Linked DNA regions of Homo sapiens: region 1 is linked to region 2. A link means that fine-mapping ties the variant in region 2 to the expression of a gene that starts in the linked region. Tissue or cell type: blood mononuclear cells. Region 2 holds a variant in brackets; the other region holds the start of a gene. All regions are shown on one strand. Distances are from middle to middle.

Region 1 (5,839 bases), 46 kb after region 2:
CTGAATTATGCACTACAGCTAATTACCTATATTTGAAAACAATGCCGAAAATACGTTAAACCTCTAAGTAATGTGATGCTCTGAAAATTTTCAATACTTTTATATTTGTATTTTTATGTTTCCTCTAGTAGGAAATTTTTTTTAAGTTTGAATTAAACTTTGTAAAAAAAAAACCTCTAGGTATAAATCATGCAATACTCTTCCAAAATAGTTCCAAAAATTTAATTCACATTAACAATACATTTTATGGGCTGGGAGCAGGGGCTCACACCTGTAATCCCAACACTCTGGAAGGCTGAGGCAGGCAGATTGCTTGAGCCCAGGAGTTCAAGAACAGCCTGGGCAACACTGTGAACATTCATCTCTACAAAAAATACGAAAAACTAGCCAGGCATGGTCGCACACAGCTGTAGTCCCAGCTCCTCCGGAGGCTGAGGCAGGAAGATCACCTGAGCCCGGGAAGTAGAGGTTGCAGTGAACAGTGATCGCACCACTACACTCCAGCCAGGGTGACAGAGCAAGACCCTGTCTCACAAAAACAACAAACACTTTACTGTCCACAAACTCCTCAAATCCCTTTGGAAAAATAAACAGTATACACAGAAAAACCAGAGGATGGGGTGGGAAATTTTTTTTCTTTTATTTTAAAAATTGAGACAGGGTCTCGTTATGTTGCCCAGACTGGTCTTGAACTCCTGGCCTCAAGCGATCCTTCCACCTCAGGCTCCCAAAGTGCCGGGATTACAGGTGTGAGCCAACGCACCCAGCCCCACTCTTAAACTGCCATTCTCAATCTTTTTCCCCCTCTCAATCTTATTTTAAGCCACCTTGCTAAACGTTGGCTGTTTTAAAATCAGTCAAAAGATTTATCTTATTACCAAGTTTCAACTTAGAACTGTACATTCAGCTTATCTTTAAAAAAAAACCATGAAAAATAGTGACTAATACCTATTTCAAATTGTCTTTATTAAAACAGAAAATTCACATAAATCACAAAGCACAATATATAATTATGTTTTAATAATTCTGAGTGAAACTTTCATATTCAGAGCCATATCTGATTAAATATTAAATATAAAGATAACTTTCACATAACCAATAAAAACATAAGGTCAATTTCTACCGACACCATAAAAGTACTATCTGTCCTTTATAAACAACCTGTAACAAATCTCTCTCAGCAGTAGCCAAAAAACTGCTAGTATCAAACATTTAATTTCAGCACCTGACCAGAAATTGGTTTTACCTTTCCTCTCAGCAAATGTTACACAATTCCACCTGTAGGGTATATGATATCCTTTTAAAATGCAATTTAAGAAGCCATTACTTTTTTAGAGAAACTGCTGTTCCTCTTCAGAAAAAATGAGAGAGAATTTCAATGTGGACAGGAACATTTTAGCCTATCATTTAGAAAAAAATACAGTGTATTTAAAAAAAAAAAAAAAAAAAGCCACGTAGCAGTCCGTGGGCAGCATGAGTCATCATCCAACTCAAAACTTGCAGCAGCACTTGTAAGCTTCCTCCTACCCGACCCCCATCCCCTTCAGCAAAGTACCCTGAGTCAGCAAACCTTACTATTTTGTCAGTTATGATTCTCACGATGCTTTAAATGAATTTATGTAAAGCACTGCAACACTTTTAGTGCTAACATTAGTCTTTAGAATGTGTGCATTTTTTTATTACAAAATTAACTGACTTCAAATCACTCTTCTCTGGATTTTTTAATAACAGAAAGTAGCCAACGACTACTTCTAATCCTCTTTTGCAAATAAATGAATTCCAGAATATCCTCATATACGAAGTTTTTTCTAAAATAGTCTCCATTTTCCAGTGTTTTCTTCTCAACAGTAATACCTAGGTGATCAAATATGTTCTGCTCAAATCTGGCATATTTTCTAGATTAACTGCAATTACTGAATTCAGGACATCAATGAATAATTTTACAAGCTTAAGGCAATTCTTAATAAATGATGTAACATATGTGAAATGACTTTACAATCCCTGGCACATAGCAAACACTTCATAAACATGTTTGAACAACTACTATCTAAAGACAAAGTTCCTTTCACCCAATTCAAAATTATTTTTTAAACATTAAAATCTGATATTTCTATGAAGAAATTCCTGATTTCAGGGCCAGGCCCTGTTTGGACCCTACATTCTTCTGGTCAGATCATTCTTTCCATCTCAGTTTTCCAGCGTTAAAGAGGGAGGACATGTGCAATTGGAACTGTAAGAGACAGGCTAGAAGAATCAGCCATCAGAAAATTACTCTGAAGCTGCTTGCTCTTCATTGTATGGCGTGTTAATTTTTCCCCTTGACAAATCATCTGTATCCGTTAAAAAAAAAAAAGTCATTACTGAGACTGCATCTTTAGCAATGAACACGAATTCTGCCGTTAATACAAGTAGGCTTCTAATTCCAACTCACCAGTCCCTTTCACTGGACCTTTTCCAATGAACAAGCAAAAGAAAAAATAAAACAGGAAAGGAATCAAGAAGCTCCCGCTGCACAGAGATCCCCCTAACACCTAAACCGGTTGGGTCCTACACTCGCCAAGAAACAAAAGGATGCCAAAACACCTTTACTTTTCGACACAACTCACAAGGCGGACTAAAATGCACAGCAAAGTGACAAGGCCCTTTTTGGTGAACCGACAAAACAAGCTTTCATTTGGGCACTTTTACAGACCACCACTTAAGGTCCCGAAAGAAGCTAAGGAAAGACTGTAGGGCCGAGGGAGGAAATTAGGAATTTCGTCTCCGAGTTTTCAGTACCTCATTCATGGCAAGACTCAAAACTTGGGCGGACTTCAGGGCTCTGAGACGAGCCGGGTGAGCGCTGCGCGCTACGCCACTGGAGACTTTGCCCGGCCGGAGTCAGCTGAGGCCGAGTCACCGGGTGGGATGGGGGAGGAGACGCGGGAGCATTTCGAAAGGCAGCGTGCCAGTAAGGCGAGACTCCACGCCACCTCATGTTCCCCGGGCCGCCGCCCCTCGCTCGCCCGCCCTCCGGTCCGGTCCGGCTGGGTTTCGAACCCGCGGAGCCAGGCGCAGGCGGCGGGACGGCAGCAGGCGTGCGGGGCCAGGGAGCGGGCGCGGCCTGGCAGGGCGACCGGCGAGGGGCGTGCCGGGTGGGAGGGGCGCGCTGGCCGCCTGGCCGGCCCCACGCGGGGACCCCAGCCCGCCGCCCGCCCGCCCGCGCGGGGACGCGCCGGCCAGGCCCGAGCGGGCGGGCAGGCGGGCGAGCAGGGGGCGGGCGGCAGACCGAACAAAAACGCCTTTGTTGAGCGGCAGCCGCCGGAGGGTCACACACAATGGAGGAGGGAGCCGGCTCCGCCGTCGCCGCCGCCGCCGCCGCCGCCGGGCCCGCCGCGGCGCCCTCCCGAGCCGCCCCGCCGGCGCACCCCGCACACGTACACACACACACTCACGGGACTTCTCCGACTCATCGAGAGAGTGCGGGGCTCGCGGACTGCCCCCAGTGTCGGCTCAGGTCTCCGGCTGTGCTGGCGGCAGCGGCGTCTCCGAGGCTCTCGCTTTGCCGCAGTCGCCGCCATGTAACCCCGACCCGCGAGAGAGGGCGAGGAAGAGGGGGCGGGGCTTCGCGGTGCCACGCCCCCTCACGTCACAGGCTCACTCCACGGGTTCTCCCGCCCCCGCCCTGCCCAGCGCACCCGCACGCGCCGGAATTTCCAGCGCCCGTGACTGGGCTGCGCGCGCCGCGGAGGCGGTGGGAAAGGCACGCGGCTCGTCCGGCGTCTCCTGGGGGCTTTGCCTGCGGGCGGGCAGGGAGGAAGACAGCTGGGGCCGTTTGCTCTACTACCTGCCCTGGCATTAAGGGAACAAAGTGACCAAACCCAGTGCCAGCGTTTACTAAGCACCTACTACGTGCAAGGCACTGGGCAATCCGAGAGGAAGAGGCCTCAGTCTCCAGGAAGGGTGGACCTTAAGATGGATTGGCTGGAAGGCGACAGCCCGAGCACAAGACAGACGCGTTAGAGGCCAATACTAAGGTCATTCATTCTGCCAGAGTATGGAGGAAGGCTTTCAGGAGTGGTCGCCAAGGTGGCCTTTCAGCTGGATCCCGGAGGAGCGGATATAACCAGGAGGTGGGGAGGGTGTTTCTGTGAGCAAAGACTGGGAGGCCAGAGTACCTGGCTTGTTGCAGGAACTGGGATAGGACAATTTGAATTTGGGAAGGGATGCACTATGAAACGTAGAAAGGTGGATGGGTGCCTTCTTGGGCCCACTTGGCTAAAAGCAAACTTACATTACTTATCATGGCTTATTGAGTCCAAGGAGCCTTTTCAGTGTTTATGTGAAATTTAAGTATTTATGAAATTAGAGACGCAGGTCAGCATATTTTTTCAATGACTTCATCACCATCTTGCTGAGAACCAGACATAGAATAGCCCTTCTAGTCATTATTATGGGCATCTTCAAGAAAGAGGCAAAGACCACTTCAAAAAGATCACAAAGGGCCAGGCGTGGTGGTTCACGCCTGTAATCCTAGCACTTTGGGAGGCCGAGACGGGCAGATCACCTGAGGCCAGGAGTTCGAGACCAGCATGGCCAACATGGTGAAAGCCCCGTCTCCACTAAAAATACAAAAAGTAGCCGGGTGTGGTGGCTCACACCTGTAATCCCAGCTACTCGGGAGGCTGAGGCAGGAGAATAGCTTGAACCCCGCGGGGGGTTGCAGTGAGCCGAGATCGCGCCAGGACACTCCAGCCTGGGCGAAAGGGCGAAACTCTGTCTCAAAAAAAAAAATCACAGAGTAATGAAGTTAAGTGGTTGGGGTGAGCTTGAATGCTTTATATTTTTTAATATTTAAAACAACGTCAGCTGAGTACCAGGTGTGAAGAAGAGGTAATGAGTGAAAAAAACCAAGAGAAAGGGGAGACTTGTTCCAACCGCAGAATTTCCAGCTTCTGCAACGAGAGCTCGTACCTTCAGCCCCACTGCCTCTGCTCTAGGCTCTCCTCTGATCCTCAGGACATTTTTCCTCTCACTCTTTGAGAACTCGTTTACCTTCCTTTTCCATCAATGTCTGATCACCCAGAGAAGGTGGGAGAATAAATACCAAGCACTGTGCCTTCCCTCAAGGAGCATTTAATCCAGTGTCACTGCTGACTTCCTGTGGATAATGCAAAGTTGGCTTACAATAGTAAGGGAGACCACTAAATTGACAGAATCTTTGTAGCATTTCAAAAGGGTGTCAGGCCTCTGAGCCCAAGCTAAGCCATCGTATCCCCAGTGACCTGCACATATACATCCAGATGACCTGAAGCAACTGAAGATCCACAAAAAAAATGAAAATAGCCTTAACTGATGACATTCCATCATTGTGATTTATTTCTGCCCCAACCTAACTGATCAGTGTACTTTGTAATCTCCCCCACCCTTAAGAAGGTTCTTTATAATCTCCCCCATCCTTAAGAAGATTCCTTGTAACTCTCCCCACCCTTGAGAATGTACTTTGTGAGATCCACCCCCTGCCCCCAAACCATTGCTCTTAACTCCACTGCCTATCCCAAAACCTGTAAGAACTAATGATAATCCACCACCCTTTGCTGACTCCTTTTTCAGACTCAGCCCGCCTGCACCCAGGTGAAATAAACAGCCTTGTTTTTCACACAAAGCCTGTTTGGTGGTCTCTTCACACGGACACGTGAGACAAAGGGGAGGTCAAGGATGGAATAATTACAAGATTTGGGGGATCTGGTTTTTGTTTGTTTGTTTGTTTGTTTGTTTTTGAGACAGAGCCTCGGTCTGTCGCCAGGCTGGAGTGCAGAGTGGTGCAATCTTGGCTCACTGCAACCTCTGCTCACTGCAA
Region 2 (6,446 bases):
AACAGGTACTGAAAAGGCTGGGAGCAGGTCAGCGGTTCAGACAACGGTCCACTTGCTGACTAGATCACTAACTAAATGTGCTCTATATAAAACACACCAAAGTATCAAATGGAAAACAGTGCTTGCAAATAATTTCATAACCAATACTATGCAGGTGTCTTAACTGAGAAGCAAAGGTGATGTTTGCTTGGATTTTATTTGAAAACCCGATTTGATTCATGATCTACTTCTCCTTAGGTATGGACCCCAGTGTAATGACATAATTGGCTCAGCCTTTAAGATTTAAAGCCTCTGTTCCCAAGCTGCAGTGGCTGGAGCAATAGGAAATGAGAAACAAGGCAATCTCACATTGAAGTGGCTACTTAAGGATCCCTAAGGTGTAGTCATGATTTCCAGCCATGCAGTTGTTTGGAATTAGAAATCCTGATTCCTACTGTAAACTGAACATTGCAAAGCTGGTAGGATTAATTCAATGGAAGAAACTTGGTTTCTTGCTTGGAGGCATGTGGATGAATAAGAACTCTTGTGCATTGCTGGCAGGAATGTGAGTCAGTACAATCACTTTTGGACAGGGACATGGCATCTTCATAGACTTGAAGATATGTAGCAACTCTACTCCTATGTATCTGCCCTAAAGACACTCTTACACATGTTCACAAGAATTCTCACTGCAAAGATGTTGGTAGAAGCAAAATTTTGGAAGATGTCATTTAAGAAATACGTTGTGGTGTAGCAATTAAAACTAAAGCTATCAGGCAAATGATAAAATAGAGCAGGGGTGGCCATACTCATGTCAGAAAAAAATGCTTTACCGCCAGGCACAATGGCTCACACCTGTAATTCCAGCACATTGGGAGGCTGAGGAAGATTGCTTGAGCCCAGGGGTTCAAGACCAGCCTGGGTGACATGGGGGAGACCCTGTCTCTATAAACAAATTTTAAAAGTACTATAAAAAATGTAAAAACTAGCTGGGCATGTTGATTCATGCCTGTGGCTCCAGCTACTCAGGAGGCTGAGGCAGGATTGCCTGAGCCTGGGAAGTCAAGGTTGCAGTGAGCTATGATCATGTCACTGTACTGCAGCCTGGGCCAGAGAGTAAGACCCTGTCTCAAAGGAAAAAAACAGTCAAAAACTGTGACAAGAGACAGAGTAGAGAACCCAGAAATAAATTCTCATCTATATGGTCAAATGATCTTTAACAAAGGTGCCAGCTACTCCTAGGTACTCAAGAGGTTGAGGTGGGAGGATCACTTGAGCCTAGGTTCAAGGTTGCAGTGAGCTGTGATCACACCACTGCACTTCAGCCTGGGTGGCAGAGAAAGAAAGACTTTGCCTCTTGGAGTATTTCATCTTCATTACCCTATAAAGATACTTTGATTGCAAGTGGAGACAAAGTAATTGGCACATAAAATTTTTATTGGAAATTGACTTTACAACTTAGTACTCAGCCTGGGTCACCCTAAAGCAAGCATATTTTATATAAGGGGTTTCAGTTTTACTTTCTTCTTCCTTTGATGACTATGTTTGGACTTTTTAATGCCAACAAGTCAGATCATTGTGTAGATGGCCACTAAACTGCCAAGGTGACAGTTTAACGAATGTGGATTAAGTCCAGGAGCCAAGTTTCCCAGTAAGAAAAATCCTAGGTCTCCTTCAGGGAAGACAGCATTTTAGAGTCAAAGCTAATTATTCTCAAAATCAACATACGTTTGCAAAAAATTGGTTATAATGGAGGATCAGGGACCAATGTCTGCTGCCCGTTGCTTCCTTTACATCCTGTCTGATGCTCTCATGACACTCAAAGCCTCTGCACTTGTCACCCCACCCAGCTCCAACTAAAAGTGTCCCATTTTTTTTTTCCCCACAAATCAATTCTCATGACTGCACTTCAGAGCTTGTCCTCTTAAGGTAATTTGAGTATGTTTAAATTAATAACGTGACAGTATTCAACCAGAAAATAAATAAATGAATATATATACACACACACACACACACACACACACACACGTGTATATATATGGCTTTGTGAATCCAGATGAAGTCAGTTGTTGAGAAGGTAGGTGGGCAGATATTAATAGAATTGGTGTTGTACAAAACAAGGATGAAAGAAAAGTGAGGTGAAGAGGATGGAGTTGTTGAGAAGGTAGGTGGGCAGATATTAATAGAATTGGTGTTGTACAAAACAAGGATGAAAGAAAAGTGAGGTGAAGAGGATGGTTTTGTAGCTGGATAGGTAAAAGGGTAAGTTCTTACGCAAAGATGTATTACAGAGCAAATCTCAAGTTTTCTGACTGCACAGTTCAAAGTTTCAACTACACATTTTACCTAACAGTTTTGAAATATTATAAAGCTTTATTCCATTCTAATATGTGATGGTTTAAGTCAAAAGACTTGAACCTTCTCAGCCTTTCAGACTAGCAATTTATGGCCATAATTCAAAGTGATTCTGGTAGTAATTTTCATTCTAGCAGAAAATTTTCATTAACCCAAGAGTGAAACAGGAGCTGTATTTGCTGGCCATGTTTTATTTGTCCTTTTTCTTCAAACAGGATAACCAAAGATACAGACAGTATTCAATAAAATAAAATAGATGAAACAAATTCTAAGAGACTGCGATGCCACATGCTACGTTTAACCTAATTTTATTCATGCTTGCCTTGGGATGGGGAATAGATCATTCAGTAAAAACATACAGTAAAAACAAAATGTCTTATCATGTACAACTTTCAAACTACAATAATGATGTACCTTAATTACTTCCATGCACACAAGTCTAACATTTGTTTTTTTAAAAAATAAACACAATTAAGACTTCTAGGAGCATTTTATAATAAAGTAATTCCTAATTAATTTTTCTTTGTAGATAGATCAAGCACCTCCAAAATACAAATTCCTATACACAGTGAGCACGTTACTTAAAATGAACACTTAAGTAAATTAAGTACGTGGACAGCCTTAGGATAAGCTGACATTATAGATGCAGCTAGGTAGGCAACAAACCATAGTGCCAAATGGAAAAAGTA[AAGTAT/T]ATTTGCAAATAAATTTTAAAAACTAAGTTAATTTTTTATAATTAAATACAGAAAATATACTGATTTGCTAAAATAAATAAGATGTGATGTATTAACACTTCACTATAAAGAATGCATACCAGAACATTTATAAACAGTGAGTGAGTTTTATTAAGAATAGTTTACTACAATAAACGCTGGCTAAATAGAAGTGCATTTTGTGAAGCACTATGGGTGGTATATGTTTTGCCACATACTCTTGTTACCTTGAGGTAGATAACACATGTGTACCAAATTCGGCATTCATTTTCAGTTGCTGCTGGTATCATGTGTTTTAAGAAATGTGTACAGTATGAAAAACTTGAAAATATTCATGAATGAAAAATGTCTTAGGAAAAAAATAGCTATTTTCATGCAATTATGTACAGTCTCACTGTGTAAATTTCAAGGCAAGGTTTGTTTCCTGTAAAACAGATCAATGTTCTATGAGAGAATGTTCTTGTCTTAGTGCATTTCTTTTCTCCTCCTGCGTTGCATTATTTTGCTCTAGTCTTTATTTTTGTGTGCAAATGACATGCCAGTTAAAATGAAAACTATCTCACATGTAGAAAAAGAAAGTCTGGATTTTAAAAAACAAGAACTCATAAAATCCTTACTAAATGACACCATCTGATTCAAGTAAAAAATGACTTAAACACTAGTAATAAAAAAAGACAAAACACATTTCATGAAGAATACAAAGATAAATGTCTGCTGAGTGTTTTAGTTCAGATGTTTCAGAATGCTGCTGTATGTTTGATGAGGAATTTGAGGGGAAGATTTCATAGCAGAAGGTGTTAATGTGGCCTGTATTGACTTAAGTGGTGACCCAACTGGACTGTGAAACTGTGGGATGCCTATGGACTCGAGCTGCTTGTTAAAGAGGAACTCCCCACTGTTGTTCAGAAATCCTTCCTCATGTCCTCTCTCCCCAAGCTTCCCATCCTCTACTGGCTCAGTTTCTAGCATTTCAGTATCTTCTTTCCTGCTAAAGAACTTGTCCAAGTAACTAGTGTAAGTGTTTTCCTTCTCAACTTGTTCATCCTTCCTTACCTCACAAAACTGATTTATGAAAAAACAGTCCTCCCCACCACTCACAAACTGGCTGTCCCAAGAAGACTGGTACAAGGCTTCTAATTGAGCCAGATTTGCCATTCCTTTTTCCTGTTTTTCTTGGCTTACTGACTTTGATATCAAACTTTTCAATTCTAGTTGGGACACTGAGCTATTCAAGTCATTTAATTTATCAACAACATCAGTAGGCTCATGCTGGGAACTAAGCTGAATAGTTCCTGCAATAAAGGAATCAAAATCAAATCCCTGATTCTTTTCCCTTTCTTTTCCAGCCAGTTGCTGTGATGCTTCCTCTAGCGCTATCTGGGCTTTAACCAATCCATTCCTTTCACATTTTGATTTGCCTTTCTTATCAGATTTTTCTTTGCTTTGTTCTTTCCAATTGGAAAGATCTATAATAAGCTTGGGTTCATAGTAATGGTTAACTTCACTCTCTCTCCAAACTAAGTTATCTAAATATGATGATGACCTCGTTTTGTAGTTACAAGTATGGCTACACTCCAGATCACAATATTTGTTTTCATGATGATCTGAGTATTGCCAACAAGGCTCAGTAGAGTAATTGGTATCAAAAGCAGGATCCTCCAGATACTTTTCCCGATCTCCATCCAAATATTTTCGGGGATCAACTTGTACTTCTTCTTCATCAGTGACATCGGACAGAGCTCTTGGATCAAGCTGAACTTCATCAATATCAAAGTTGTTATGTACAGGCCAATCATGCTCTGAAAACTGACAATCATGATACCTGAAAAAAATCAATACACTAGCGTTATTCTACGTATATGATTTCATTTTCAAATTCACCGAGTACCTTCTATGTGACAGCACTGTGCTAGGTCTATGAGGGGATAATTATAGGAGAGTAAATATGCCTGCCTTGCCCTACCAGAACTTAGTCTTGATAGGAAAGCTCTGTTAATATATTTGGTAATTGCCAATGCAGTATGTAACTTCATTTCCAATTTGTTTTTTGTCCACCAGTTCCATGCAAACAAAAGACTTCATAGCCACAAAATGCAGATCTCAAATCTCAATCAGGTACCTTACAAATGTTTACTCTACAGTAAGGGCAACTAGAAGAGGAGGAGGTTTGCTAAATGTTTACTCTACAGTAAGGGCAACTAGAAGAGGAGGAGGTTTGCTGGAAAACTCATCACCATGAATAGCAAAAATCTCCCTGTGTATACGTGCTGCTGAATGCGCTATCCTATTACTGACATGTATAATCATTGAGGGAAAAGAAAAGAGATTAGATAACTTAGCTAGGTAAAATAGAAAATGCAGGTCAGGTGCAGTGGCTCAGGCCTGCAATGCTAGCACTTCAAGAAGGCCAAGGTGGATGGATCACTTGAGGTCAGGAGTTTGAAACCAGCCTGGCCAACATGGTGAAACCCCCACTACTAAAAATACAAAAATTAGCTGAACATGGTGGCGGGTGCCTATAGTCCCAGCTAGTAGGGAGGCTGAGGCAGGAGAACTGCTTGAACTCAGGAGGTTGCAGTGAGCAGAGAGATGGGCACCATTGCACTCCAGCCTGGCAACAGAGTGAGACTCCGTCTCAAAAAAGAAAAGAACCATTATTTAGGGGGTAGAAATGGACACATGGAGAAAAAAAGTAGTTTGCAGATTTGTGTAAACATACCATACCAATACATCAACATTTGAGGAGGGGGAAAAAAATTTCTTCTTAAAATCTTAAGATTAAAAAGATTGGCATTAGTGGTTCCCAAACTTGGCCATACATCAAAATCACCTGATGACTCTATAAGCTACCATCCTACTCTGAAGCATCAAAATCACCTGATGACTCTATAAGCTACCATCCTACTCTGAAGCAGAATTATATCTAAACTTCCCCAGAAATGTATTTATTTATTTATTTGAAACGGAGTCTTGCTCTGTCGCCCAGGCTGGAGTGCAGTGGTGCAATCTCGGCTCACTGCAACTGCTGCCTCCCAGGTTCAAGTGATTCTCCTGCCTCAGCCTCCTGAGTAGCTGGGACTACAAGAGCCCGCCATCAAGCCTGGCTTATGTTTGTATTTTTAGTAGAGACCGGGTTTCACCACGTTAGCCAGGCTGGTCTCGAACTCCTGACCACAGGTAATTGGCCTGCCTCAGCCTCGCAAAGTGCTGGGATTACAGGCATGAGCCACCGCGCCCAGCCAAACTTTCCTAGAAATCCAATTATTTCACTTTATGAAACATCAAAATATGGATAACATTATACACTAATGTTTAGACCTAAAAAAGTCTCTTTTACTGAACCTATGTTAAGTGTCCCCAAATTAATTGTGTCATTAGGAAAACAGATTCAAATACTGG

The links. PIP is the estimated chance that this variant, and not a neighbour inherited with it, causes the effect.
Region 1: MAPK6 starts here. The variant in region 2 is fine-mapped to the expression of MAPK6 in blood mononuclear cells (TOPMed, PIP above 0.99).

The regions. Positions count from the first base shown.
Region 1 is chr15:52,016,972-52,022,810 of GRCh38, reverse strand. MAPK6 (mitogen-activated protein kinase 6) reads right to left here and starts at 3,592. Exons shown (of 6, transcript NM_002748.4): 1 at 3,435-3,592. MAPK6-DT (MAPK6 divergent transcript) reads left to right here and starts at 3,716. Exons shown (of 2, transcript NR_156732.1): 1 at 3,716-4,112. RefSeq lists enhancers at 2,532-2,581, 3,922-3,991 and silencers at 2,832-3,341, 3,642-3,751.
Region 2 is chr15:52,062,325-52,068,770 of GRCh38, reverse strand. MAPK6 (mitogen-activated protein kinase 6) reads right to left here. Exons shown (of 6, transcript NM_002748.4): 6 at 1,396-4,869. The coding sequence ends at 3,771. All of the region lies in intron 1 of LOC112268150 (a long non-coding RNA gene), which reads left to right. Among named protein-coding and RNA genes, the nearest start is that of MAPK6, 46 kb to the right of the region's middle. The variant AAGTAT/T (reference allele first, on the strand shown) is at 3,024.